Linked DNA regions of Homo sapiens. The protein of the gene in region 5 purifies or fractionates together with the protein of the main gene of each other region. This does not show direct contact. Each region holds a gene or a part of one and is shown on either strand. Other genes may lie near its edges. The genes, in order: ATP13A3, PIGG, PTDSS2, CCDC127, SLC16A8, ABCD3 and PIGN.

Region 1 (4,638 bases), on a different chromosome or scaffold from region 5:
CAGAATCTGAGGTTCAGAGATGTTATGTTGCCTAGTCACATACAACTAACCTTATAAACCCAGAGACAGAAACCTCTGTGTTAAGCACATTAACACAGAGCTAGGTTTCTGTCTGTCTTCAAAGTCGCTTATACTGTAAGCTCCTTAACTTCTTTAATTTTTTTTTTAACAAAGAAGAATATTGTTACCTGAAAGTGTTGAGGATTAGTTGAGACCATATGTAAAGAAAGGAGCACTTTTCCTGGCACATAATGGTTTCTTTCCTTCTTCCATTCCATATATTGAATCAAACTATGCTTGTATAACGTGGTGGTTTTGTAACTACTGTGAATATGAGGTTTTAGAATATGAATATGCTTTATTCCTAAGATAAATAGTAATCTTAGGACATAGGCACTATATCATATTACTATGGATATACAACCTACTCAATGGTCAAACTCAGTGAGAATAAGCAGTGATGGGGACGCCCTATGGAACTTTATCTTTATTCTGTCTTTTTTCTCAGTCTCAGTGATGTTGGAAATAAGAACTTTATACTTGTGAATGACAACAAAGTGGTTTATAATCTCGAAAATCTTGAAGACAGAAATAGGATTTCAAAATGAGCTCGATAATGTGGTTTATCCAAAGCGGATTCTGTGTGTTGTATATTTGGTGACCTAAACTAACTATGTAAGTATCAACCGCCAAGCTCGGTGGCTAGCGCCTGTAATACCAGCACTTTGGGAGGCCTAGGCAGGAAGATCACCTGAAGTCAGTAGTTCACGACCAGCCTGGCCAACGTGGTGAAACCCTGTCTCTACTAAAAATACAAAAAATTAGCTGGGCGTGGTGGCACACACCTGAAATCCCAGCTACTTAGGAGGCTGCGACAGGAGAATCGCTGAAACCCAGGAGGCAGAAGTTACAGTGAGCCGAGTTCACACCACTGCACTCCAGCCTGGGCAACAGAGCAAGATGCCATCTCAAAAAAAAAAAAAAAAATTTAAAGCAACCAAATAGTGTCACTTTTCCTACCCAATCCCCTGACCAAAGCCAGGCATTGTTGTTCTAACAAGGCTCAAAATCTCAATTATTTCACTCTCTGCCTGATCTAATGGTAGGATAATGCAAATCAAAGATACCAGCAAAAGTTATGTTCTACAACAATCATTAATAATAGGTTTACTACTTCGAACAACTTCCAAGCACTGATTTGCCTTAAAGGGGTTGCAAACCAGGATGAGATGCCCACACACATTGATTTTTGGCAACTGTAGTCTATTAAGCAAAGCAACAAACCTCTAGAGAAAATAATGTCACATATATTCCAGTGAAACAAAATTAATACATGTACCTTGGTAAAGAGGCTGAGCTCTAACCAAAGATAGAGCACTGTTCATTACGTACTCACCCTTCAAAGGAATCAAATCGAAACACTTTCATTTTAACAACGATACTTTTTAAAGGCTTTATTTTGCAATAATCTTTCAAGTCCCTGCATTTCTTAGATTCCTTAAATTCTAACTTCCTGCCTCATAGATCTAAAGTAGCCATGACATACCCAGGTATGTTCTACTCATTTAGTTAGAATCGTATAGAGGAACACAAGTCTGTTTCTAGGTGTACGACTCCACACCCATTCATTTTGCACTAATATAACCACTAAATATAGCTCTAAGACACTGATGATTAAAAGCGGCTAATTATGTGAGTGATTCATACCTCCTATGTCCAAACACCAAGATTCAGGGATGTCTGTCAGATCTATGGGAAGAGGAAACAATAAACACCTGTCACAAAGCTTCTTCCACACCGGGAAGCCCCCAGCTGAGTTCCTGCCAATCCCAACCCGATTCCCTCCCCCTTCATCCCTACCCCTCACCTCCCCAAAAAAGCCAGAGGTCATACTTCCACCAGAACCTGACTCTGTGAAGGGAATGGAGAGACAGAAAGGCCATAGCGAGAGTGGCCACGAGAGCACTGCTAGGGCAAAGGGCCCTGGGTTTTTCTAGTCCTCACTGCCACAGAGTCCGAGTGGGAGGCCTCAGGCAAGTCAGAAGTCACTTTTCCTCCACGGGACTCACTCCTTTTATCTGTGAAATGCGGAGATGGCAAGCAGCTCCATACTCCACGGCTGAGGACGAGCTAGGGTCCCGCACAGACTCATCGAGGGCCCTGCCAGCACCCCTACGCCTCTGCCCACAGGACCTCCACCTCCCACAGGACTTTCCGAAAGCTCTGACTACCAACCACCAAGCGCCCGGCCCCCACGCTCGCCCCCGGCAGGCGGCGCGTCCCCCCCAGGCCTTCGCACCCACCGCGTGGGCTCCTGCCCTGGCCTCACCTGCCCCCGACACTCCCCGTCCCCGCGATGCCCAACTCCGGCCCGAGAAGGCTGGCCGCGACCTCGCCCGGTACCCGCCGCCCCGACACCACCATTCGCCTCCTCGACCTCCCCCGGCGCCGCTGCCCACCCGCCCCTCGCCCCGCTCACCGGGGCCGCTCACTGGCCGCCGCCGCGCCGCCTCCTCCGCGGCCTCCCTCGCGGCCGGACCAGCCCCAGGGACCGCGGGGGACCCGGCCGCCGCTGTCGCCGCCGCCGCCTCGCCTCAGCCCAGCCCCATCGCCCTCGGCCGGCGCCGCGCGCTGCGGCTCAGGGTGAGGGAAGGAGGCGCCGCGGCGGGGCCGGGCCGGCCCTGGGACGTCCGCGCTCTCCTCCTCCTCCGCGCCCGCGGCGGCGGCGTGCAGCCGGCAGGGCGAGAACAAGGGAGGGCGGCGGGAGGTGGGCAGGGGAGGGGGGCGGTCTGCACTCCGAAACGGCCCCCCCGCCGCCAGCGACGTAGAGAACCCCCCTCCCCTCCGCGGCGGCGCCCGATCACGCTGCGGGGAGAGCCGGCAGGCAGGCGGGGGAGCGCGCGCGGGCTCAGGACTCCCGCGCCGGATGTGAGGTCACGTGGTGGCTTCATCCCCGCGCGGAGGGCGGAGGGGCGCGGGCGACGTCAGGAGGCGGGGAAGGGGCGGGGAGGGGCGGGGCGATTTATAGGCCCCGCCCACCCATCGCCTTTGCCACCCTCGAACGGGCAAAAGAAAGAAAGAGGCAGGTAAGGGGAGGCGAGGCCGTCCAAAAACGCTGGGTGTCAGCCCGGGGTGGCTAATGGAGGGCGGCTTTTCTGGTGGGATGAAATGGAACGGCAAATCCCACTTCATCCCCTTTGGGCTATGACAACATCATAGTCCAATCTCCCATTTTATGAACAGGGAAACTGAGGCTCAGTGACTAGACAGACGTTGCCCAGAGTCATGGTCATGGAGGAAGCTTGTGCTAGAATGGTGGAGAGGAAACCAGAGCCCAGCTCCTAATGCAAGGCTCTTTCATTCCTTTAGCCACCCTCGCCCCCGCCAAAACAAACAGACAAAAAACTGTCATTCTCATATGACCACGGACTCTGCGCCCCGGCCGCAGGCGGAGGACAGGGAGGAGCGCACACGAGAAAGCTCCCACGCGCCCGCGCCTCGCCTCCGACGGGAAGGCGCCTCTTCCGACCGTCCTGGATGCAAATTAAATACTTCCCTCCGCAGAAGACTTATCTCGGGGTAGGGCCGCAGCCGGATTTCCAAATCGCGGGTTTGATTTTCGCTGCGTCCTCTCCGCGACGCGCGCAGGGAGCGCGCCCGGCCACCTGCAGCCTCTGGCTGCGGCCATCTTTCCGCCTGGGGCCACCTGGCCTGCGCCCTTTGTGCCCGGCCCGCTCCGTGACTGTTCTTCTTGCCGCTACTTACAGAACTCAGCCGCCTTAGCGTCTTAGAGAAGAGGACGGCATGCATGCGGACCCCGTCCACCACACCTGGAGAGCAGGGAGCCCTTAGTCCCTGGACACTTACCAGGGCCGCCACCCCTGGTCCACGCACGTGATGACATCTCACCAGGGGCAGCACACCGCCCGAGTCCGCGACACTGATAACACCTCCTGCGGGCAGGAGGGCGCCACAGCCACCCCTGGTCCCCTAGATTGTGTGAGGCTAGCATTTCTGCCCGCCTCTTGGCGTGGACAGCACGCTGGACCGAGATGGAACCACAGCTTTCTCTTCCCAATCCCTGGCCTCACCGTTTTGTTTCATACCTCACCGTTTGTTTCAAACCTCGTGGTGTTGAAATGATTAAATGAGATTAAGGGGTGTGTGGTAGTGTTGGGCAAACCACAAGAAAACGGTCTGGGTGGGGTCTGGCCCTAAAATCTTCCTCCCCCACCTCCCAGGCTTCCTTGCCTTGCTGCTTCCTCTCAGCCTTTAAACAGGTTGGCCTCTCCAAGTCCTAAAAACAAAATTATCAAGCCAACCTCCTCCTGAAGTGCTCCCTCCAACTAGCTTCCAAGTGTTTCATGCGGACCTCAAACAATGGTCTTCCCTGGCTGCCTCTGCTTCCTCATTTCTCAACACTTGGCATTCTGGCTTCTCCTCCCCAACTCTAACCCTTCACCTTGCTCAGGCAAGAGCAACTCATGACTTTCATTTTGCCAAACCTTGCAGGCATTCCTCAGGCCTTATCTCTCTGGTTCTTTCTGCTACATTTGACACCTTGGGATGACTCTCACCTTCTGGAATCTCTCTACTACCTTGGTTTCAGAAGAGTGAACCCTCTGGATTATCACATGA
Region 2 (4,101 bases), on a different chromosome or scaffold from region 5:
GGGAACCAGTAAATGTCCAGCACTGCTGACTAAAGGAGCCGCGGCACCCTCCCTACCCCCCAGGTCCTGTCATGGCAGTGGGCATGTCTCCTCCGCACAGCAGCCCTGAGGAGCCGCCGCCACAGGCCCACAGGTGTGTCCTCGTGCAGACTCTTCCGCTGGGGCTGGCTTCGGGGAGATCTTGCTCATTTGGCTCATCTGGTGGCACGACCCAAGCGGTGCCCTCGTGGCCCGCCTGCTTTGCAGTTAATTAAAAAAAACCCAACGCACTAGTATAAGAGTCAACTCTAAGAAACTGCTGTAAGTTCATAAATGTTCATTGCACAACTGAGCAGATTTAAAGAAGGATTTGCACATTTACAGGTACACATACATGCAGTTATAGGTAAATAAGCACCTGCACATTCACAGGCACACACGCGTGCAGTGGTGCAGTCATCCAACCCGCGGGCTCTGAGAAAAGGCAGAGCTCTGCTCAGTCCGAGCCCTGCTGCTCTGCTCACTAGCTCTCCTACTCGGGCGTGTCAATCAAGACTTCTGACCCTCAGCTTTGCTATTTGTGAAATGGAGAGAAAATGGTTCTACACTTCACAAAGTCATCCTAGGAATTAAGCAAGGGAATGCAGGGAGTGCTTGGCACACAGTAAGCTCAGTAAAATTAAGTACTCTTATGATAGTTATCTGTAAAGGATACAATTACCAAAAAATTTCATCTTACAAAACACGTATGTTCCTAAAACATAATATTTTAAATAAATTTTGTAAATGAAATGCTTCACACAGCCTACAAATCTGATCATTTAAAATAATCGTAATTTTTAATATCATAATATTGTGAAAACTGAATTTTCCTATATTAGATTTTCTTAGAAAGCTTTTACATTAAGAAAGTAAACTTTGATCAGTTTAGTTCAAACAGCCTGAGCACTGTATACCATGTGCCTGGCAGTGTGGCTGCCAGGAGGGGCCCACATCCTGGCTGAGGAGCTGGGGTCAGGTACCTGGCAACCCCCACAGGCCAAGGTGTGTGCTAAGTTAAGAGTGAATTATAGGCCCATCTGCATTCAAAGAAGGGAGAAATCAGCAAAGGTCACAATCACTGGAGAAGTTTCATAGAAGAAAAGGGACTGGTTTCTGTGTCGAGAGGATGCTAGGGCAGGCAGGGTGATGAGCAGGAGGGGCATCATCCAGGGCCTTTGGTGGGTCCTCCTCCTCCTCCCCTGGCCGGGCAGAGTCTGATCCTGCTCAACCAGGCCCACCCCGCTTCCACCTCCACTCCAGCCATCCCTGGGCTTCTGAGTGGAGGACAGTCAGGAACTGAGTGCAAAGGATTTCAGACTCTCAGTGGATGGCAGGGCCCGGGGGACTGACAGGAGAGCGGCAGCTGTTACAATGATCTAGAGCCAGGATGCCTCTGTAGCCAGGACCTATTTACGATCGGGACAGATGGGGACAAAGGACGGAGGCACTTTACAGGAAGAAGGTGAACCAGGCAGTGCGTGTGGAAAGAAAAGGCACACTGGCTAGTTCTGGACACTAGCAAATTACATGCTGCAGGAAGCAGGCCAGGAAAGGGAAGAGGGCCAAGGTCTTGAGATGAGTGATGCTGAAATTCAGTGTATAGATCTGTGAGGAAATGAATTTATTCATACGCTGCACCTTAAACACACACCCGCAAATGTAACATCCATTTGGATGAGCCCTAAGTCTCAGATTCCAAAGTCAACAGCCTTTGAGACATCTCCACAGAACACCGCTGGTACCTGCACGTCAGCATCCTCTCTGCCCCAGGCCCCGGCCCCGTATGACGGCCTGCTACACTCTCACTGCCTCAGCCAGGCCTCAGGTCACCCTAACTCCCACCCCTTACTCCCCACTCAGCCAGGAAGTACTTCCAGGGGTGCCCCCGGAGCCCCACGGCCACCCCTCAGGCTGGCCACAGCCCTCAGCAGTCACCTTGACTTGCTGTGATTAGAAAAGCAACACTTATTAACTCTAGACATCGCTAAGATACAAAAATAAGTAAAAAGCAAGACCACAATCTTATGATTTCAGGTCCTAAATATAATCACCAGTATTTTAAGTATGTAGTCTTTCATATAAGTATGAAAAAAAAAACAGGTACACAATTAGTAAGCTGGGGTCATACCTGTTCCACAACATGCTTCTCTGTTCTGTGAAAATAGGCTGCCTAACAGCCAGAAGACCCCTCTGCAGAGCACCGACCTCACTGAGAGGGTCACTATCAGAGCACCGACCTCACTGGGACGGTCACTGTCAGAGCACCGACCTCACTGGGAGGATCACTGTATTGCTGCTGGATAATTACCCTGGTTGTTCCTTTTTGCAAGGACACTTTGTGAAGGACACTTCAGTGGACATGCCTCTGTCCCATCCCAGGCTCCTGCCTCTGCTTATATTCTTGAGATAAATGGAAACAGCTATTTAAATTTAAATAGAGGGTCACCCACATGTTACAAGCTGCCCTCCAGAACGGCCTCTGCTCATCCCACTCCTGTGTTCACCACCACAACACAATTAAAATCAGAAACACAGTTGCTTTGACACAAAGAAAATAAAATGGTCCTCCTGACTGAGCCCTCCCGCCAATCAACAGGAGCTCCTGGCCCCTTACGGGGGCTCGTTATAAATTACAAGGACGGTCTGATTTTCCAGCAAGCTTCATTTCCCAGCTGCTGGGAAACATCCACTCATCATCCTCATCACCAATTACACCCTGACCAGGAAAACAGAACCCTGGCCATCACGTGCTGCCACTAACTTAGAAACCGATTCACGCTCATCTGTCTGTCCCATCACACACCCTGAAGGTTTTATTTTAAATTTAAAAAATCTTACTTCCAAGTGATTTGTCTCCTAAAAGTAACACATAAAACATAAAAAGTGCTAACAACGCAGCTGGTTGAGGTTTTCTTAGTTACACTCCAGTAGCTGTTGACACAATCACAATTCACAAACACCAAACTCCAATGCTCTGAAGACTGGCTTGGTCTTCTCAGTTCATCAAACAGTGAAGTGGTTCCACGCGCCCCGTGTCCGCCAGTTCTTCAAACAGTAAAGTGGCTCTATGCACCCCGTGTCCGCCACGCACTTACTTGGAAATGTCCTTGCTGTCCGGCCGCCACGGGAACCGGACACTCCCGATGGCCGCCCGGTAGCAGTAGACGCCCAGCAGCCCCAGCGCCAGGGCAGCCTTGGACACAGGGGAGCACCCCCTCTGCACCAGCACAAAAACTACGAGGAGGGAGAGGGCAGCCAGGACAGAGAGCTCGGCTTTGTGGTCAGAGCTGAAATGAGATGGAAAATGCCAGCATTACGTAAACAAACAGCGACAAGATCAATCTACACCAAGTGGCTTTCAAAGAACGGTATTAAAAAATAGCTGATTTTCCCAAAAACCAAAGATTACATGAAATTGTTGATTTTTATTTTCAAACAAAGGTTCTTAAAGTGTAACAAATAAAAGATGGTCAACCTCAGTGGGGTGTGGTGGCTCACACCAGCAATCCCAGCACTTTAGGATGCCAATGCGGAAGGATCGCTTGAGGCCAGGAATTTGAGACCAGTCTGGGCCACATGGTGAGAACTCATTAAAAAAAAAAAAAAAAGACAGTTAACTTGAACTCTCACTTCTCATTCACAAACGGGTCTCCCACCATCAGATGTGGATGCCCAGAGGCCAGGCGGTGACAAATAGAAACCGTCCTCTTGTTCCCTGGTACCCTCTCGGGGTCAGCCCTGCACCTACCAGCTCACCTCCCCTCTCCTGCCTCCTCCCATTAACTCAGTAACGCATGATACGTCCCTAGACCCACATGGCCTCACAGGGTCTGCTGTCACCCGCTCCTGGGTGAGGAGATGGTGCAGAGGTTGACGGCCTGTCAGAGGGCAGAGCCCGGAGTCCCGACCGCGATGCGGTGGTGCAGCACCAGCCAGTCCTGGCCTGTGTGAGGGTGGGGAAGGCCGGGCTCCCTTCTGTTTCTTTCACTGCAGCTCCCGCTTCAAAGCCTCCCAGGATGACGGGGAGACTGGGGCCACACGGGGGCCTGGGCCTCACCCCGGGAAGGGGTACCTGGGTGT
Region 3 (4,101 bases), on a different chromosome or scaffold from region 5:
ACTGCCCCGGGGGCTGTGCTGGCACCTACGTGATCCCACCAGCACTCGCTGAAGTTGGGCAGCTGGTGCTCCAGGCTGTACTCCAGGAACTCGAACATCACGCTGATGATCATGCACATCCACCAGTCTCGGATCATCAGGGTCTGTGGGCGCCAGGGTCAGCCAGAGTATGGGACGCCGGCCACACCCGGCCCTGCCCACGGGTGCGTGCAGCCCCCACCCCGGCTGGCAGCCAGAGTATGGGACGCCGGCCACGCCCGGCCCTGCCCACGGGTGCGTGCAGCCCCCACCCGGCTGGCAGCCAGAGTATGGGACGCAGGCCACGCCCGGCCCTGCCCACGGGTGCGTGCAGCCCCCACCCCGGCTGGCAGCATTCTTGGAGTCGACAGCACTGGCAGGGCCCCCAGTGAGGTCTCAGGGTGAGCGTGGGGTGGGTGGCTGCCCCTCCAGCAGCCTCGATGTACGACTGTCAGCAAACAAGGCAGCATCCCCGTGCCCGGGGCCTGACACCAAACTCTGCCAGGGTGGGCTGCAGGGTCAAGCAGGCACTGCTCTTAGCCCCATAGGTAGCACAGGGTCCCTCAGAAGTGGGATGGGGCAGTGCCCAAGCCCAGGCAGGGGCGGGACTTCCTGCCCTGCCGCCTCTTTCCACCGCCCCGACCCTGAGGACGGAGCGGGGACCCGACCAGGATCAGGGCTTCTGGGAGGTCCGGGAGCCCCACGGCTTCTCGAACCTCTGGGTGGCTGCAGTGCGACACCCTCCCACCACACTCAGAGCACCCTGAGCTCAACTCCATGGACAGAAACGGTCCAGAGCCCACGGCAGGCCTCAGAACCGGGGCGGGGAGGCCGGGAAGAGGAGGTGCCGTACCTTCAGGTACCAGCCAAGAAAGTGCGCGGGAACAAAGCCATCCAACTTGTCCTGTGGGCGACAGGGTATGACCCTTGACCCTGGGGCACAGCCACCCCCACTCCCCACACCGGCAGATCAGCCCACACCTGAGCAGCACCTGCCAGACCCCGGGAAGAAGGCCAGGGACTCACAGGTGCTGCCGTGGCCTGTGGAGACCACGTCCACGACAGCCTAGAGAGCAGGGGCCCCCTGCCCACCATGAGCACCATCCAGACGGACAGGGCCTCAGCACATCTCTGCACCAGGAGACCCCAAGTGTGGGCTGAGGGGTGCGAGGCAGGAGCGTGGATGGCGCCTGGTCCGGCACGGGGCCACACCTGGGGAGGGGCTCGCCTCAGGGCCCCCGGCGTCTTACCCAGATGTTGTGAAAGGGGTCAGTCTCATTGTCTGGGTCGTAGATGAGGCAGTTTCCCCCGTAGTCTCTCTCTGGCAGTGGGACTCCCAGCTTGGGGTCAACATACTTTAGAAACTGCCGGCCGTCCTGGACAGTCTGCAAGGCCAGTGCCCCCGTCAGCGGGGCTACAGTTAGTGGTGGCAACTTGAAACGGGAGATCATGGTTGTTTATTTATTTTATTTTTTTGAGATGGAGTCTCGCTCTGTCGCCCAGGCTGGAATGCAGTGGCGTGAACTGGGCTCACTGCAAGCTCCGCCTCCTGGGTTCACGCCATTCTCCTGCCTCAGCCTCCCGAGTAGCTGGGACTACAGGCGCCCGCCACCACGCCCGGCTAGTATTTTTTTTTTGTATTTTTAGTAGAGACGGGGTTTCACCGTGCTAGCCAGGATGGTCTTGATCTCCTGACCTCGTGATCCGCCCACTTCGGCCTCCCAAAGAGCTGGGATTACAGCCGTGAGCCACCACGCCCGGCCAGGAGATCATGGTTGTAAACTGCATCTCAGTCACCCTGGAGGAGGGCAGCGCCCTGTCTCAGCAGCCCTCCCCACCCCAGGGAAATCCTGGTGGGGCAGCGCGTGGGGAAGGAACCCCCAGGCACGACACCCCATCTCCACACCTGCGCTCCCCGGGGCCAGGTGGGCACAGGTGCGCTTCAGGACATGGGGGTCTAGGACCGCTGGACAGACGGGAGCGGGATGGGGCCCTGAGTTACTGCGGCGCGCCGCCCCCACCCCGACCCCTCCCCGCATGCGCGCTCAGGCCAACACCCTCACAGGAGTCGCCCTTGTGGAACCTGCTCTTTCCTCACCCAGACGCTGGCATCAGCCAGATACACCTCTTGACCTTAGGGCAAGGCAGGCTTTTGGGCCTGACGTCAAGGGAGGTTTACATCATTTACAGACACCTGTGCTCACAGCACACACGCACCAGGGCACCAGCTGTGTTTACACTCGCCTGCGCACACGGTGAACACACACGCCCGTGCACTGTTTACACTCGCCTGCGCACACGGTGAGCACGCGCGCCCGTGCACTGCTTACGCTCGCCTGCGCGCACGGTGAGCACACGCGCGCCCGTGCACTGTTTACGCTCGCCTGCGCGCACGGTGAGCACACGCGCGCCCGTGCACTGTTTACGCTCGCCTGCGCGCACGGTGAGCACACGCGCGCCCGTGCACTGTTTACGCTCGCCTGCGCGCACGGTGAGCACACGCGCGCCCGTGCACTGTTTACGCTCGCCTGCGCGCACGGTGAGCACACGCGCGCCCGTGCACTGTTTACGCTCGCCTGCGCAGTGAGCACACGCGCCCGTGCAGTTTACACTCGCCTGCGCAGTGAGCACACACGCGCCCGTGCGCTGTTTAAACTCGCCTGCGCACAGTGAGCACACACGCGCCCGTGCACTGTTTACACTCGCCTGCGCAGTGAGCACACGCGCCCGTGCAGTTTACACGCCTGCGCACACGGTGAGCACACGCGCCCGTGCACTGTTTACACTCGCCTGCGCACACGGTGAGCACACGCGCCTGTGCAGTTTACACTCGCCTGCACAGTGAGCACACACACCCGTGCACTGTTTACACTCGCCTGCGCACACGGTGAGCACACACGCGTCCGTGCACTGTTTACGGTCGCCTGCACACACACAGCACACATGCCCATGCACTGTTTACAGACGCCTGCGCAGTGAGCACACACGCGCTCGTGCACTTACACTCGCCTGCGCACACAGTGAGCACACACGCGCCCGTGCACTGTTTAAACTCGCCTGCGCAGTGAGCACACACGCGCCCGTGCAGTTTACACTCGCCTGCGCACAGTGAGCACACACGCGCCTGTGCAGTTTACACTCGCCTGCGCAGTGAGCACACACGCCCGTGCACTTACACTCGCCTGCGCACACAGTGAGCACACGCGCCCGTGCACTGTTTACACTCGCCTGTGCACAGTAAGCACACGTGCCCGTGCAGTTTACACTCGCCTGCGCACACAGTGAGCACACACGCGCCCGTGCACTGTTTACGCTCGCCTGCGCAGTGAGCACACGTGCCCGTGCAGTTTACGCTCGCCTGCGCACACAGTGAGCACACACGCGCCCGTGCAGTTTACACTCGCCTGCGCAGTGAGCACACACACGCCCGTGCACTGTTTACAGACGCCTGCGCACAGTGAGCACACGCACCCGTGCACTGTTTACACTCGCCTGCGCACACGGTGAGCACACGCGCCCGTGCAGTTTACACTCGCCTGCGCACAGCACACACACCCGTGCACTTACACTCGCCTGCGCACACGGTGAGCACACGCATCCGTGCACTGTTTACGCTCGCCTGCACACACACAGCACACACGCCCGTGCAGTTTACAGACGCCTGTGCACACAGTGAGCACACATGCCCATGCACTGTTTACAGATGCCTGCGCAGTGAGCACACACGCCCATGCACTATTTACAGATGCCTGCGCAGTGAGCACACACGCGCCCGTGCACTGTTTACACTCTCCTGCGCACACAGCACACACGCACCCCTGCACTGGCTGTGTTTACAGACGCCTGCACACACAGTGAGTGCACACATGCCCGTCCTCTGTGAGCTATGGCACCCAGGACCACGCAGCCCACCCAACACCCAGGCCTCAGTTCCTAATATTCAGTAAGGACCCAAGGCTCTTGGAGAAGGGGCTGATTCCAGGACCAGGGTGGGGAGTGGACAGGAGGAGCCTGGAGCATCCCGCAGTGCTAGGAAGTCAGGATGTCCTCAGAAAAACAAAACGAAAAGCCAAGAACTCCGTG
Region 4 (2,994 bases), on a different chromosome or scaffold from region 5:
TGCCGAGTGGGCAGATATGGTGACTTCCACTCCCCACATTCGTCTCTGCCTGCTCTGCAACCACCTAAGTGCTCTCTGCACACTGCAGGCAGTGCCTTACTGGAGCCTTGTCCAGGGACATGAATTTGATATTGCGGCCAGCTTTTGGAAACAGGCAGGGAAGGTGCTGGGCCAACATTTTTAATGACTTACTTCTAACTCTAAAGCACAGAGTGGCTGCCACTGCTTTGTGTCTGAATTTTTATTGTAAGACTCAGCCGCTGGGCGGCATGATGACCAACCTTAAGGCCTGTGGCAGTGGAGAAGGGCCCAGGGTGCTGGGTGTCCTGAGGCCTGGGATTGGGCAGGGCACACAGGAGCCCACTGGTGTCAGTGGGCGGTGCTGAGGGCACAAGCTCCCAACATCTCCAGCTCCACAGACACCCAGGGGCTTCCCAAGAACAGCCCATTCTGATAAGGCCAGCAGAGGCTGGGGACCAACGCCTCCCTCGCCCGTCCTGTGCAGGTCTCGCACTTGCTCCTACTGAACTGATCGGCCCCATCCTGCATGGCCGTTCACCATTCGCTGGGTCTTTGTCCTCGCCCAATCTTGTGACTCCAGTCCTGGGTCGCATGGCGTCTGTGGCCACACATCCGGCGTCTGCAGGGCCCAGGAGCACGCCTGCTGGGTTTTTATGGAGAGCACTTCTCTACCGCAGAAAACACGGCCTCCCACACAAGACAAGCTAGTGGGAATCAGGCAAAACCATTCAGCAGGTGAGAGTGCTGATCCAACCCAGCAAACATCCATGGTGGCTGTAGCTGGGGCTGCTCCTGGCGGAGCCTCAGGGTTCACCTGCCCAGGCCCACCCCGGCTTTCCAGGGCCAGTGGGTGATGTGAGCAGGGTCCCAATGGGGGCCGCCATCTGGAGCCACCGTCTTTGCCTCCCTTGGGTCTTCCACAGCAGCATGGGCTGGTGCAGCTCCTTCAGAACATGGCACTGCTTCCTGTCCACCATCCTGGCAAGGAGTGGGGGCCGTTTTAGGGGCTCCAACTCAAGTCCTTCCTGGCTTAATGACTTGTTCCACAGGTCAGGAAATGATGATACCCTCGCAGGCCAAGGAGATATACGCAGGCCCAGTGGCCCCTGTGTGGTGGACGTGGCCCCTCTGTGTGGTGGACGTGGCCCCTCTGTGTGGACGTGGCCCCTCTGTGTGGTGGACGTGGCCAAGGGCCCTGGAACATCAGGGTTGCTCTCATCCACCAGCGCTCTCCTGCTCTTCCTCTTCTGAGTTGAGCAAGGCTCCATCATCTGCTGCATGCTGGAGTCCCACTATCCATCAGCCCCACACGGCCCCATGGGTGGGGGCACCGTGCTTGTCCCCCCCCATCTTGATGCCTGCCAGTCACCCCCCGCCCCACCTCTGCCAGCCCAGAGCCCCTCAGCCCAGATCCCATTTTCTGGCACCACCAGCCCTGGCCCATGGGGAGCAGCCACCTCGGAGCTATGGCACAGTGCTGTCAAGAGCAGGGCCCCAGCACCCCTACCTCCCGAGGAGGCCCCAGCACCCCACTCCCTGCCTGTCAGCCACCAACCAGCTTCGAGAAGCTCTCCCAGCAGGGATGGGCTCGGTCTCAGTGTCCCTGCTGGAATATTAAACAGAGCCACTTGAGTGCCCCAATGTGGCACTTTCTGCCCATCTGCCTTTCTTCGTTACTCCTCCCTCCTCACCCCACTCTCGGCACCCAGGCCAGGCCCTGCACCTGCTCCTGGAGCAGGACTTGACTCCTCTACCTGGACCAGGCAGGTCATGAAAGATGGGGCACTGCCTGAGGTCTCTGCCAGATTCCCAGGTGAGGGAGATCTGCTTTCCCCATGGGGTTGGGGCGGCCATGCTGGCACAAAGGGCTCCCGTGAATCTGGAGCTCACCCAGCAAACATCCAGGCGGCGGCAGCAGCTCTCAAGGTACACTTGTCCTGTGAGCCGCAGAGCCACATTCAGGCTCATCTGGTCCCGCTACCCGACAGCAAGACCCTCAGCCTGTCAGGGGGTCTGCAGCAGATGAGAGACCTGCGAAGCTGCCACAGAAGCCCTCCGCCTTCCACCGCATGCCTGCTGTCCATGGGTGGCTTACTGAAGCCCTTCGTTTTCTCTTTTCAAGATTTCCCATGAAGCTAGCAAAGGCCACAGGCTCTGCAACCCTGATCTTCATTGTTCCCACTCCTTTAGAACACCGCGGTATGGTGGAGCCCAGCGCTTCCCTAACTCGGCCGCCCGCTGGAGCAGGCCAGGCAGGGGGCAGGCTCAGGAGCTGTGGGAACCGCCCTGTCCCACCGTGTGGCCAGAGAAGCTGGTTTGGGGATTGGCGCGGCTATGCAGAGATATGACACAGAGTGACAAGTACTCCGAGGCCCCTGAGAGTCCCTTATTTGTCTTTCTGGTTCTTCTCTGACATCTAACCTGTGTTCTCCATTCTTGACCTGAAGTTTCACGAGACAGCCTTAAATCCCTCTTTAACTTTCTAGGCTAGCACAAATCCATCTCTGCTGCTTGCAAACAGAATCCTAAATTAATAGAGAAATACAGCAACTGTTTCGTCAAACCCAGCATAGAAAGAGGAGCCTTTTCAGCCTCAACCTATAAAACCCAGCGCAGTTACTCACACAAGTCAAGGCAGACGGAGCAAGCCCAGCACTTTCTACACAGCAGGCTGCCCCCATCACAGCCAGCCAGCGTCTACACAGCAGGCTGCCCCCATCACAGCTAGCCAGCGTCTACACAGCAGGCTGCCCCCATCACAGCCAGCCAGCGTCTACACAGCAGGCTGCCCCCATCACAGCCAGCGTCTACACAGCAGGCTGCCCCCATCACAGCCAGCCAGTGTCTACACAGCAGGCTGCCCCCCATCACAGCCAGCCAGTGTCTACACAGCAGGCTGCCCCCCATCACAGCCAGCCAGTGTCTAGGGCAGCTGCCCCCCCAAACACCCTGGCTCCTCCCAACATCGCACGG
Region 5 (4,697 bases):
CTTCCCTGGGTCTAAGGGGCACTAGGCTCGCCACCCCCTCTTCCTTCGGGGCGCACCGGCAGAGGGCGGTCCGATGAGCACAGCCGCGGCCTCCACGAGCAACACCAGGCCCAGCGCACTGGGGAAGCGGGGCGCGCCCACAGCCGCCATGAGCACCTCGAACTGCAGCGCGCCCACCATGCCGTAGGAGAGGCCGAAGGCGACGCAGAAGGCGACGAGGGCGCCGTAGGAGCGCGCGCGTGCGCTGCTCAGGTCTGTGAGCCCATTGGCCAGCAGGGCCAGGCTGAACAGATACGGGACGTGCGGCCGCAGACGCGCCAGGCCCGCCAGGGCGCCGCACGCCGGGCGCGCCACGATGTCCACGAAGCCCACGATGGACAGCAGGAAGGCGGCGTCGGTGTCGGGCACGCCCGCGTCCTTGGCGTAGTTCACCAGCAGGATGGCGGGGACGAAGAGCCCGAGCGCCATCAGGAACTTGGTGACGGCGTACACGGCGAAGGCGCGGTCGGTGCACACTGCCAAGTCCAGCAGGCGCCGGCGGGGCCGGACCCTGGGGGATGCCTCGCGCAGCTGCAGCCCCGCACCGTCAGCCTCCGCCTCGCCCGGAGCGTCCCCGGCGCGGTCGCCGGCGCTGTCCCTGCGCGGTCGCGGGCCCGGCCCGGGCGGCGGCCTCATGACAGCCCCGCAGGCGCAGCAGTGCAGCAGGAGCCCGCCGAGCAGCAGGAAGCCGCCGCGCCAGCCGAAGCGCTCCAGCAGCTGCTGGCCGAGCGGCGACAGCGCGGACAGGAACACGGGGCTGCCCGCCGCCGCCAGCCCGTTGGCCAGAGGCCGCCGCCGCTCGAAGTACAGCCCCAGCATGATGAGCGACGGCTGGAAGTTGAGGGCCAGGCCCAGGCCTGCGGGCGAGGCGGTGCTGTGCCGGGGTCCCCGGAGAGCCCCTCCCTGGCCCCCACAGGAGGGAGGGGCCAGGCCCGGGAACCCAGCAGATCCGGGAACCCAGCCGAGGGACTTCGAAGACTGTCCCTCATAGGGAAACCGAGGACAGATCTTGCAGCAAGAACCCCCGACCCCCAACCCAGCGGAGAGGAGACCAGGGGGCCCTCACCTGTGAGCACCCCAGCGGTCAGGTAGAGCTCCAGGAGGCGCGTGGCAAAGGAAGCTAGGATCATGCCCGCGGAAGCCAGCAGCCCACCCGCCAGCATCACCGGGCGACAGCCAAAGCGGGTCACGAGGATGCTGGACACGGGGCCTGTGGGCAGGGCAGGGTCACCACCCGGGTCCCGGGATGGCTTGAGTCCTCTAAGGAATAAGGTCACCTCCGGCTCAGGGACACAGAGAGGAGGGCAGTGTCTGGCCAAGGTCACACAGCTTGGAGGGGACAGGCCAAAGAGACAGCATCCTGCGAGGGCAAGGCCCAGAGCACCCCATCCTGCGAACCCAAACCCCAAGCGGAGCGGGGGCTTCCGCACCCCTTTAACCTTCACAGCCTCCAAGTCCCGCCCTGGCACAGACTGGGATTCCTCCGCAGCCCCGCCTCCCAGGATGGGAACTCCAGCAAGCCCCCACCTACAGGTCAGGGCTGCGGGGAGGGGGAGTGCTTCTGTGGCTCTCAGCTTTCCTGCCTCTACAATGGGCGGGTGTGGTCTTAGAAGGGGCCCTCTGAGCTCGCAGGGCAGCCCCCTGGGCCGGCCCCGCCTCTGGCCGCTGTCTCCCTCCCGCCCTCTCTTCCCCTCTTTCTGGTGCCAGGGTTCCCACAGGCAGGAAGGGACTTCGGGGGCCACCCCGAGGGTCAGGGGGATGCTCAGGGGCTCGGGTGTCTCCTGGTTCCGGATCCCAGGGGTCCCGGGGAGGCGGAGGGCCGGGCGGGGACACTGACCCGTGCCGTAGAGCATGGCTAGCATGATGGAGGACACCCAGGCCGTGTCGCTGTAGCCGGCGTCGAAGTCGCGCATGAGCGCGCGGAAGAAGACGCTCACGGCTTTGGGGAAGCCGTAGGCGAAGCCGGTGACCACAAAGCAGGCGCCCAGCACCACCCAGCCCCAGCCGCCGTCTGGGGGGCCCTCGCCCCGCCGGGGGCCGCCAGCGCCCATCGCTGCCTCTGTTGGGAGGGGGCGGGGACAAGAGGGAGGGGCTGGGCCAGCAGCCTAGAGAAGGAGGGGGATGGAGACGAAGCATGGGGAAACTGAGGCACAGGGCTACCCACGTGAGGGTGGCTCAGGTCTGGGAACCAAAAGGGGAAACGGAGGTAGGACTCTCACCCCAAGTCTCCTTCTCCTGCAAAGGGCGCTGAAGGACGAGGGGAGGACGACGGGTCCCACCTGACTCTGCACCTCTGCAGGCTCCCTCTGAAGGACAACTGCTGGCCCCTCAGGGCCTCAGGTGGAAGGCGTCGGGAAGTGGAGCAGGTATGTGCCTGGAGGTGGGCGTCCAGCACCAAAGTCGCCCCGTACGCGTGAGGGTCTCGGGACAACAGAACAAACAGCAGAGGGGCAGATGCCGGCTGCAAAGGGCCGCTGTGCGTGATTTTCCTCTTTAGCCTTCCGCCATGTTCCTAATGTTTCTCAGTGATCACAAATGACTATTGTCATTAGAACATTAAGGGGACAAAAGCCACTTTCAACAGATATCAGCCAGGGGAGCTGAGTTCCCATGCATCTCAGCTCAGCCATGGATTCCCTCCCTGACTTGGGCCGGTCGCCTCCCCTCTCCCAACCTCCCTTTCCTCCGATGTAAGATGGGTGATTGATCACCCCGAGGCCAGCTGGGAATCTTGCGGGAGAGGAGTCAGGTCTCTGGCTTCTGCCAGACAGGTAGGAACCTTAGCAGCACTGAGAGAGTGGCCTTCTGCCCTCCAAACCTCAAACCCTCTATATGAAAAGAATGGCTCCAAAGCCTGTCTCATTCCTGGGGCTCCACCCGGGGCCCTCACAGCAGTTACAAGCGCCCCCATAACAGATGAGGAGGGTGTACTCAGAGACAGGTGCACCAGGAGCCGGGGGCTGGGGATAGCCTCCTGCCCTCCTGCCTGGAGTGTCCCTCCTGGCACTGGGCAGTGCCACCACCCCCAGGGTATCCGGGACTCTGCCCCTCCTCCACTAGGACCAGGTTGTGGCTTTTCCTGCCTGTTGTCCTCTTGTCACAGGGGCAGCCACTTGAAGGTGGAGACAGGAGGGTGATCCCAGGCAGCCCTCACATCACACTCACCTGAGCCTGCCTCGTGGGTTTGGGGGTCCAGCCTCACATCTCCTGAGGCCTGCAGGGAGGGGCCGCCGCCGCAGCTCCCGGTGAAGCTTACCCGGATGGGGGCTGCCAGACACCCCAGCTTCCCACCAGCCTGGGCTGAGCCTCTGGCCGACTCCCGCCTGACGCTCCCTGCCCCAGGCCTGGAGCTTAGAGTGTGTGCCCCCACCACACCTCACCCCTGCTAAGAGGCTTTTGTCCAGGAGGGGAGAAGAGACTGGGAGCCCCAGGCCAGGCTGGGCCTCGGCGGTGGGCTCCCTGTCCCAAGCCAGTCCAGGAGGGAGGAAGAGAATCCCTGTGCCTCCTGGAGCCTGGGGTGGTAGACACAGAGACCTTGCCCAGGGGGTCCTAGTCTGGTGCTGGGGGCACAGCCCTGCCCTGAAGAGACCCCAACGGTTCTAATCACCTCAGTGCCTCATCTGCCCCCGCCCCAACCCCCCGCCCCAGGCCACATTCCAGGAGGGGCTGGCAGCTTTCTCTAGAATGAAGCTAATCCACGCCTGTGCCTGGGAATGTGGGGGGGGGAGGGGCCAAAACAAAGGGTGCTGTGTCCAGGCCGCCTGAGGGCAGCTTGCTGGTGGTCCCAGCCCTTGGCCACTGCCACCTCTCCCCTGACCCGAGCAGCCGCTACTTCCTAGGAAACCCACAGGTCGAAATGAGAGCAGGTGGAGATGGGGGCTGCAGCGCGAGGGCTTTGGGGCAGCCCTAAAGAGTTCTCCAAACAAACAAACAAGGGGCTGGGAGTGAGATGGCTTCCCGGGGAACAGCCAGGACCTCAGTACCCCCTAGACCCCATTCTCCAATGGGGGAGTCTCTATCCCTCACCCCCTGCCCTGTCCCCCAAATAAGACACCACCAGTCCTGCTGCCGCATCACTTTGCGTCCACTTCCTTTATTTCTCATCATTTACAAAAGATGTACAGAGAGGGCATGTGTTGGGCACGGAGCAGGTACAAGGGGCTCCTCCCCACGGGGGCAGAAAAGGGGGAAAGAGGTTAGGGGGCAAGAGGTGGGCCCCCCAGGGAGAGTCCTGGAGCCCCTGGAGGGGGAGAAATTGTCCTGTCCCCCCATTCCGCCTGCTTTACTTTGAAGGTCTCGGACCCCAAGCCAGTGCTTTGGAGCTGCTCAGGCTGCCGGGGTGGTCTGGGGAGGGCAGCCACCCCCCGTCTCAGGGACCCGCTTCTTGGATCTGCTGCTGTTGCTGCTGTCGCTGCCATTGCCAGCTCTGAACAGCCCCTGGGCAGGTGCACTGTGGGGTACGACCTCGGACCCCGCCTCAGCGGATGAGGGGTGCTGAGCGGTCATTGGTGATGGTGGGACGAAGCTTGACAGTGGCAAAAGGATTTGTGCCCCTGTAGGAGGAGAGAGAGAATGGGGTGAGAAGGGCAGATGATCCCCACCTGGCCATGGCTCAGGAAGGCAGCTGGGCAACTGAGCTGGGTCCTGCCTCCTGCCCC
Region 6 (4,101 bases), on a different chromosome or scaffold from region 5:
AAAAGTTACAGTGTAACATTATTCCAAACATTGGGAGAATGAGTAATTAAATGTTCTGGGTTACTTTTAATTTTTGTTAATGTAATTTTTTTCACTCAGTTAAATCTCATATATATGTGTGTGTGTTTCTGACCTTTTATTGTGGAAAATTTCACACATATAAAAAATAAATAGAATAATACAAGGATTGCCCAATGCACTTTACCCAAGGAGTACCAACAACATTCTATATTCTTGTTTCATCTATTTCAACCTGCCTGTCACCCCTTATTTTTATAGGTTTTTTAGGTAAAATTTATATACATTGAAATGTACAAATATTAGTTGTACATTTTTTAAACAAATGGATACACTATGTAACACATCCCTATGACAAATTAGAACATTTCTATCCCACCAGAAAGTTCCTTTGTATTCATTCCTGATCAGCTTGTATTCACTCCTGATTCCAGCACTGCTAAGCTAACTTTTTCACCTTAGTTTGCCTAATCTTACCTTTTATTTTATTATTTATGGGGAAAAGAAGAATCTTTTTACTCATGGATAAAGAGGGCTATTTAAAGGAAGTGTCTATTTCAGAATGTTATATTACTGTACTGGGAGCTATAAGATGTGTGTGTGTGTGTGTGTGTGTGTGTGTATTACAAAAATATATGACTTGTTTTCTCAGGGAGCTTACCTTCTTGTTAGGGAAAAGAAACTTAAACACTGATAGCAGAATGAAATGTACAGATAGACATGTCTTAGAAGTTTTGAGAAAGACAAGATTAATGTGTTTGGGAAGGGTTGGGGAAGGCTTCATGAAGGATGTGTGTTAAGCCTAGAAAGGGGGTAGGAGTGGATAACTGGAATAAAGTGACTGTTACAGCATCCTTTATCAGATTTTTGTTGCATTTATGTTAGAAAGAAACTTTGTGGTGCCCTTTCAATCCATCTTCCACTGCCACCAGAGCTCTTTTTAAGAAGCTCAGATATGATCATAATATTCCTTCATTAAAATCATTAATCTACTCTAAAATACAAACTTTCTGTATTCATGGTGTGGTCCTTCCCTACTTTTCCCACTCATCCAACCATAAGTGCTGGGATTACAGGCATGAGCCAACTTGCCCAGCTGATACTTCTTTTTCTTCAAGACTCAGTCAACACTTTGTCTTAGGTGTTTTCTGTCTTTTTCTGATTTCCAAACTGATGTAAGTGTCCTCTGCTTTTATGATACTGTAGGCCAGGGGTCCCCAACCCCCGGGCTGTGGACTGGTACAGGTTGGTGGCCTGTTAGGACCCAGCTGCACAGCCTGTGCAAGCGAGCATTACCACTTGAGCTCCGCCTCCTGTCAGATCAGCAGGGGCATTAGATTCTCATAGGAGCGTGAACCTGTTGTAAACTGCACATGTGAGGGATCTAGGTTGCACACTTCTTATGAGAATCTAATGCCTGATGATGTGAGGCAAAACAGTTTCATCCTGAAACCATCCCCCAACTCAACCCCAATTTGTGGAAAAATCGTGTTCCGCAAAACTGGTCCCTGGTGCCAAAAAGGTTGGAGACTACTGCTCTAGGTATCCCCTACTCTAGCACTTACCATTCTGTATTGTACTAGTTTGTTTTCTTGGCTTTTGCCTACATCAGATCCTGAGTTTCTTGAGGGCATGAACTGAGTCATCTTTAATTCCCTAGTTCGGCTCTGTCATGGGTTAGACAGTGTTTATAGAGAGGATAAATGACATAGGATAGTTGAAGAACTTTTAAGCGTAATTGACAGGCATTTGGAGATGCCTAGTACAAACATGAATAGAAACATTCTTTTTGCAGAAGTAATAGTTGTGTACCTGAGCATATATAACCTGACCTGGGTAGTGGGAAATCAGTGGGCCAATTTTAGAAGGCAGGGAATGGTACCAGTCTGTATAGCCATAGTATTTTATTATCTTTAAAAAACAGAACAGAACAAAGCAGTTTCTTTCGCTTCTTATCAATGCTTGTCAAATAGAGTTCGGATTTCTCATCTTGGATTTCAGAGCCTCCCTCAATCTGGTCTTACTTTACCTGGCTAATCTTATATGCCATTGCCTGCCAATGGGTACTCTCTGTTCCAAATAGGACAGTTTCTACACTGTTCTTTGAACAGGCCACACTCATTTTTGGCTTTGGAGCTTTATTCATGCTGTTACTCATACCTAGAATATCTTTCTATGATATCCCTGTTCTCCAACTCTTGTCATCCTTGAAGGGTTAGGTCAGGGTCACCCTATCCATGAAGTGTTATTTAACTACTCCAGATGATCTAAATGATGATCACCTCTTTTAAAATTTCTGAAGCATGCATTTAAATACCTTTATTGTTTTATCTATTCATTGCTTGACTGGTTATAATCTAGCTAGGTCTACCAAAGTCCACCTGCTTATGGGGTGAGTTTCCTGCTTTTAAAAGCCCCCCTCTGTAAATGGTGGGAACACAGTTTCCTCTCCTAAATATTTCTCAGGAATTTCAGGGAGCTTGTGTTTCTTTTAGTGACATCTTACTTCGCTTCCTTTGGAGCACTTTCTGCTCTATTTTAGAAGGTACTTACATCTTGTCTCTTGAGCCTGTCTCTTTGGCGTCTGCCTTGATTTCTCTAAAGAATCAATCACAAAGCAGATATTTATAGTAGGGCTTTATTGAAAATTTGGGAGGAGTGGTAGGGATTATATCCCAGCATAGTGAACAGCTTAAAATGCTTTTATTTAGAAGTTTTTTGGACATTCCCACTGCTGGAAATTTCTTGACTTTTTTTTTTGTCCTGAGTCTCAGCCCTGTTGCCTGCTGCTGGGCCTTTCTTTACCCATTGGGTGTCCTTATATCTCCAGCTTCTTACTCCCTGCACTACGTTACTGCTAACCCCTCTACAACTTTCCTGCAAACTTCAAAATTCAGCTTTCCTTCCTTAAATCTGCCCCATTCAAATCAAGCTCTAGAAGGGGCTGGCTTCACTTTTCTCAGTTTCACAGGCGCACTGGGTGTTTTGCAAAGTGCAAGCATGAATCATGTGAGGGGCTAGAGCGGCTTGAGACCCTTACAGTTACCCATGAGTAGATGTTATATGGCCCCGTTTGGATCCTCAAAATAAAAAAGAGATGCTTAAGCAACCTTGGATGGAAAAAAAAGCATTGAAGAATTTGCCAGCCAAAGTAGCTGTGTACTGAACCCAACTGAGGCAGATCAGGCCCAGAGCAGTGTTCTGAGAACTGTGTAGCTGTCTGTGGTCTGCTAGGGGGAACTGAGTACAGGTTGTTTAATTAATTATATGTCCCAGTTACTGGCACATTCACATCCTTGGGTAGGCATTCTATTTCAAGGCTTTTGCTCTTGCTGTTTCCCCTGCCTGAAGTGCTCTTTCCTCAGATACTCACATTGCTTACTCTCCCCACTCTTTCAGTCTTTTTTCAGACATCCTTTTAGTGAGACCTTCTATTGCCATTCGATTTATTTTTATTTATTTATTTATTTTGAGACGGGGTCTCACTCTCTCACCCATGCTGGAGTGTAATGGCACCATCTTGGATCATTGCAACCTTTGCCACCCAGGCTCAAACAGTCCTCCTACCTCAGCCTCCCAAGTAGCTAGGACTACAGCCACACGTCACCACACCTGGCTAATATTTTTTGTAGAGACAAGGTCACGTTATGTTGCCCAGGCTGGTCTCGAACTCCTAGGCTCAAGCGATTCTCCCACCTCAGACTCCCAAAGTGCTGGGATTACAGGCAAGAGCCACTGTGCCTGGCCCCTGCCACTCAAAATAGCATCCTGTCTACCTTCCAGACTTTACTTTTCTCCTTAGCACTTATCACTATAAAATATGCTATATATTTTACATATTTATCTTGTCTGTTGTATATGTTTGCAGTATATACATACTGCTAGCATTTAAGTTCCACAAAGGCAAGAATTTTTGTCTATTTTATTCACAGTTATAGCCCCAGTGGCTAGAACTGTGGCTGGAATATATAGTAGACACTCATATTTGTTTGACTCTACAACAACAAATGAGATTCTCATTTTTTGGGGGCTGTGGTTACTATTGTTTTAAATAACACATTCTTTTTGCTACAAATGTAAATG
Region 7 (3,994 bases), on a different chromosome or scaffold from region 5:
TTTTATCTTTTCCCAAATTTTTATAAAGAGAAATTAATAAATATTTTATTACAACATTGTAAAGGGTGCTCAGTTTTTTTATCTTTCTTTATTTTGCTCTTTGAGGCATATCTTTTTCTTAATTTTGTCCTTTCAGGTCAGTGTGAGTCTGTAGAATAGGTTGAACTTCCTTCTGACAGTATCATAGAGTTTGTGGAGTTTGTGTTGTGTGCCTGCAGCCACAGGCTCGCCTTGCTGCACCGTAACTGGCCCCTTCAGACTCACATGGGAACAAGCCTTTTCTGTTGCAGTTTCCCAGATATCTTTAAATGTTTTGAAATGTATATTTTTATGTTGCAAAACAGAAAAAAGAAACGAGTTAGGGAAAAAGTATTTCTATTTAAGGTATTTATTTTTTCATTCTACCTATGCCATAGATTTCTGAATCAAGACTTAGGACATTTGCTGATTAACAATGTTTAAATTAGGAATTGTTATAAGAATTAAAATAGGCAGAACAAGTTGTGAAAATATTGAACCAAAAAAAGGCCATGCTATCATCTTAGAGGGCCCATGAATAAACCTTAGAGGGAATCCTAAGGCTTTAGGAAACCGCTGCAGCTTGTCTGTCATTTTCCAATATGTTAATTATTATACTTAGTGTACAGTATTTAGAATACAAAATGCTTTTTTATTTTTTAGGAAAATAATGTTATAAATGATTGTATATTTTCATAGTAATGTCTTTATAATTATTTATTAATGATAGAGCTGAATTAGAAAAGCTCTTCATCCATTATAATATGGTTTCTCATGAAAAACTTATTACAAATTTCAGCCAACTCAGATATTAAGAACATCAGTGTCAATCCTCCTCCCCTCCTGCGACCTTTTTACACTTGTTTTGGTGGACTAGGGGCTCCTTTTCTCCTCCTTTTTGACATATAACTGTGCCATTAAAAACATGATTTCTGATGAAGCTGGCCTAGAGGGAATGAAGGAGATTGCGTGGGTATGGTCTCTAGGACAGGCGTAGCTGTTGCAGGGCCACCCTGTCCTTGGGAGAACCTGGTGAGCTCCCATATTCACACTAGATGCCATCATGTCAGGGGGCTGAAGAGAATGGAGCTAATCAACTCTGTCATTTGGAGAAGACCCCCTTCAGACCAGTTCTGAGAACTCCTTCTTTTAAGAGACCAGAGATAACTTGATCATTTCTCACCTTTTCGTAGTTGTTCTTTTTTATGTTGACATTCCCCTTACTGTTTTTAAAATGCTTCAAAGCATTAATGATTGTTATGCTGTGTGCTTTCAGTACTATGGCAATATCTTTGTAGCATTTTCCCATTTCTGTATAAGCATGGTTTTTTGTTTTTTTTTTTTTCGTTTTTGTTTTGAGACAGGGTCTCACTCTTGTTCAGGCTAGAATGCAGTGGCACCATCTCAGCTCACTGCAACCTCTGCCTCCTGGGCTCAAGTGATCCTGCCACCTCAGCCTCCTGAGTAGCTGAGACTACAGGCACATGCCCCCACACCTAGCTAATTTTAAAATATTTTTTGATGGAGACAGGGTTTCACTATGTTTTCCAGGCAGCAGCATTTTTTTTTGACTGGGATTTCTTTATGATGCTTTGTTATTTAAAAAAAAAATGAGAAGGAAACATTAATAATCAAAATTATCTTTAATTGGCCTCACAGGGCTAAAATCTAGAATTATTATTACTCTTGGGTAAACTCATGAAAAGTACTTAATATTCATTCTATAAAGAAACAAAAAGAACCTTTGAGATGTGTCTCTTATTCATTTCCTTGGGTACACTTAAAACGGGTTACAGTTACTGCTCAACTTTCTACCTTCAGAACTGCAGCATTTATTTGCCACACAGCAGCATTTATCAGAGATTGTCCCTTAGAACATTGGTTCCTTGTAATACAAATAAATGTCATAATAAAAATAGTTTCTTTTTTCTTTCTTTCTTTTTTTTTCAAGACAGACTCTGGCTCTCTCGCCAAGGCTGGAATGCAGTGGCGCAATGTCAGCTCACTGCAAGCTCCGCCTCCCTGGTTCAAGCGATTCTTCTGCCTCAGCCTCCTGAGTAGCTGGGATTACAGGTGCCCACCACCACGTCTGGCTAATTTTCATATTTTTAGTACTGACAAGGTTTCACCATGTTTGTCAGGCTCATCTTGAACTCCTGACCTCAAGCAGTTCACCCGCCTCGGCCTCCCAAAGTGCTGGGATTACAGGCGTGAGCTGCCTCACCCAGCTGAAAAGAGTTTCTTAATTAAATATATTTGAGAAACATCTAGTCAAACCACCTTAAATAGGTATATTTACATTAGTTCTAAGGGAATTTAACTTGTGATGTACGTTGTGAAGGGAGGAAGATAGCATTATGCCAAAAGTTTCCACTAGCTTGACAGCAGACCCTGTCTTAGAGTTTTCTTCCTGATTGGTAAACATAAGAAATGTTTCCAAAGCCGGGCTTGGTGGCTCACCCCTGTAATTCCAGCACTTTGGGAGGCCGAGGTGGGTGGATCACTTGAGGTCAGGAGTTCGAGACCAGTCTGGCCAAGATGGCAAAACCCCATCTCTACTAAACACACACACACACACACACACACACACACACACACACACACACACACACACACACACACACACACCCGGCGGGGTGGTAGGCTCCTGTAATCCTTGCTACTCAGGAGCCTGAGGCATGAGAATTGCTTGAACCTGGGAGGTGGAATTTGCAATGAGCCGAGATGGTGCCACTCTGGGCGACAAAGTGAGACTCTGCCTCAAAAAGAAATGTCTCCATATAATTTTGCACTAAAACCTTAATTTGTCATAGTTTTGAAAATAGGGTGTTGTATGTTGATTGAATTTTTTTCCCTGAGAACTGGAATACCATTTTTACTTTAACCCTTAATGTGAGAAAACTTTACAATTTCCTGCAATTTTTCCTGCCTCTGTATATATTACACCTGTCATCATTTAGTCTTTCATGTGGGAAAGGCCAGTGGTACCAGATTGCATTCGGTTCATCATGGCTCATTGTCTAGCCCTGCTAGAGTATAGACTAAGCCTTCATACCTTATGTTTTATATCTTTTACCTGAAAAATAAATTTGCACCAAATTTCAACTTGTTTTCTTATGATTTGACAGTGTAGAAAGTGATTAGTAGTTAAATTTTTATAATGCTTTGTTATTTAAAAAAACTATGAAAAGAAAACATCAGTTATCAAAATTTCCTTTAATTGGCCTCAAAGGGCTAAAATCTAAAATTATTATTACTCTTGGGTAAACTCATGAAAAGATAAATTCTTTTTACAGAAGAATTTAATTAGCTTGACTGGTATCAAATACCAATTGCATCAAACATCAGTGATTCCATGAATTTTTTAAAGTTGTTTTTACTTTAAGCAGATAATGTTCAGTGAATTTGACTAATGTGATTAACGAAGGGACCAACACAGGTAATTGTCAATCTTACAGACATAAACTGTTACCTCGAATATCCCTGTATTACTTGAAATTCTAGAAATCGTCTGTCAACATTTTAAAAGCTCCTCTCCTTGCTGATGAGAAGTAATATTCTTAAAGTTAGAAACCATACAATTAAATCCTGATTTGCCTGATACATGTTTGCTTATCATGTCCTATCTCTCATGCTATTGTGATTGGTTTTATTTTATTAAAAACTGCTCATAGCATAGCCAGGTGATCTATGTGAACATCAACAGTGATAAGCTGACAGTATGTACCCTGGATACATGATGAGAATGGCACTTTAGCTACACGGACTTCCTCCCCAGTGCTCATAAACCCAGTCTAATCATGAGAAAAACAGACAAATATCAATATAGGAACATTTGGCAAAATACCCAGTGAGTACTTTTCAAAACTACCAAGGTCATCAAAAACGAGAAAAGGCTGAGAAACTGTCAAAGCCAAGAGAAGCCTGTAGAGACATGACCACTGCATGGGGTGCGGCACCCTGGATGGGCCCTAAA

The links.
Region 1: the proteins of SLC16A8 (region 5) and ATP13A3 purify together in Homo sapiens (affinity purification with mass spectrometry; one large-scale study listed by BioGRID and IntAct). This does not show direct contact.
Region 2: the proteins of SLC16A8 (region 5) and PIGG purify together in Homo sapiens (affinity purification with mass spectrometry; one large-scale study listed by BioGRID and IntAct). This does not show direct contact.
Region 3: the proteins of SLC16A8 (region 5) and PTDSS2 purify together in Homo sapiens (affinity purification with mass spectrometry; one large-scale study listed by BioGRID and IntAct). This does not show direct contact.
Region 4: the proteins of SLC16A8 (region 5) and CCDC127 purify together in Homo sapiens (affinity purification with mass spectrometry; one large-scale study listed by BioGRID and IntAct). This does not show direct contact.
Region 6: the proteins of SLC16A8 (region 5) and ABCD3 purify together in Homo sapiens (affinity purification with mass spectrometry; one large-scale study listed by BioGRID and IntAct). This does not show direct contact.
Region 7: the proteins of SLC16A8 (region 5) and PIGN purify together in Homo sapiens (affinity purification with mass spectrometry; one large-scale study listed by BioGRID and IntAct). This does not show direct contact.

What each region holds. Positions count from the first base shown.
Region 1 is NC_000003.12:194,484,087-194,488,724, forward strand, and holds the start of ATP13A3 (polyamine-transporting ATPase 13A3), read right to left. Parts: upstream 2,917-4,638; 5' UTR 2,480-2,916; intron 2,462-2,479; exon of another isoform or gene 2,330-2,461; intron 2,151-2,329; exon of another isoform or gene 1,868-2,150; intron 1,750-1,867; 5' UTR 1,708-1,749; intron 1-1,707. UniProt on the Homo sapiens protein: ATP-driven pump involved in endocytosis-dependent polyamine transport. Uses ATP as an energy source to transfer polyamine precursor putrescine from the endosomal compartment to the cytosol.
Region 2 is NC_000004.12:526,246-530,346, reverse strand, and holds part of PIGG (GPI ethanolamine phosphate transferase 2, catalytic subunit), read right to left. Parts: intron 3,309-4,101; coding exon 3,117-3,308; coding exon of another isoform or gene 3,113-3,116; exon of another isoform or gene 2,806-3,112; intron 1-2,805.
Region 3 is NC_000011.10:484,241-488,341, reverse strand, and holds part of PTDSS2 (phosphatidylserine synthase 2), read right to left. Parts: intron 1,452-4,101; coding exon of another isoform or gene 1,404-1,451; coding exon 1,269-1,403; intron 923-1,268; coding exon 872-922; intron 144-871; coding exon 30-143; intron 1-29. UniProt on the Homo sapiens protein: Catalyzes a base-exchange reaction in which the polar head group of phosphatidylethanolamine (PE) or phosphatidylcholine (PC) is replaced by L-serine. Catalyzes the conversion of phosphatatidylethanolamine and does not act on phosphatidylcholine.
Region 4 is NC_000005.10:198,160-201,153, forward strand, and holds part of CCDC127 (coiled-coil domain-containing protein 127), read right to left. Parts: 3' UTR 1-2,994.
Region 5 is NC_000022.11:38,080,784-38,085,480, forward strand, and holds the start of SLC16A8 (monocarboxylate transporter 3), read right to left. Parts: upstream 3,402-4,697; 5' UTR 3,205-3,401; intron 2,579-3,204; 5' UTR 2,259-2,578; intron 2,255-2,258; exon of another isoform or gene 2,099-2,254; 5' UTR 2,091-2,098; coding exon 1,877-2,090; intron 1,250-1,876; coding exon 1,106-1,249; intron 897-1,105; coding exon 57-896; intron 1-56. Other genes in the region: BAIAP2L2 (BAR/IMD domain-containing adapter protein 2-like 2), read right to left, coding at 4,517-4,592.
Region 6 is NC_000001.11:94,420,952-94,425,052, forward strand, and holds part of ABCD3 (ATP-binding cassette sub-family D member 3), read left to right. Parts: intron 1-4,101. UniProt on the Homo sapiens protein: Broad substrate specificity ATP-dependent transporter of the ATP-binding cassette (ABC) family that catalyzes the transport of long-chain fatty acids (LCFA)-CoA, dicarboxylic acids-CoA, long-branched-chain fatty acids-CoA and bile acids from the cytosol to the peroxisome lumen for beta-oxydation.
Region 7 is NC_000018.10:62,040,293-62,044,286, reverse strand, and holds the end of PIGN (GPI ethanolamine phosphate transferase 1), read left to right. Parts: 3' UTR 1-3,123; downstream 3,124-3,994.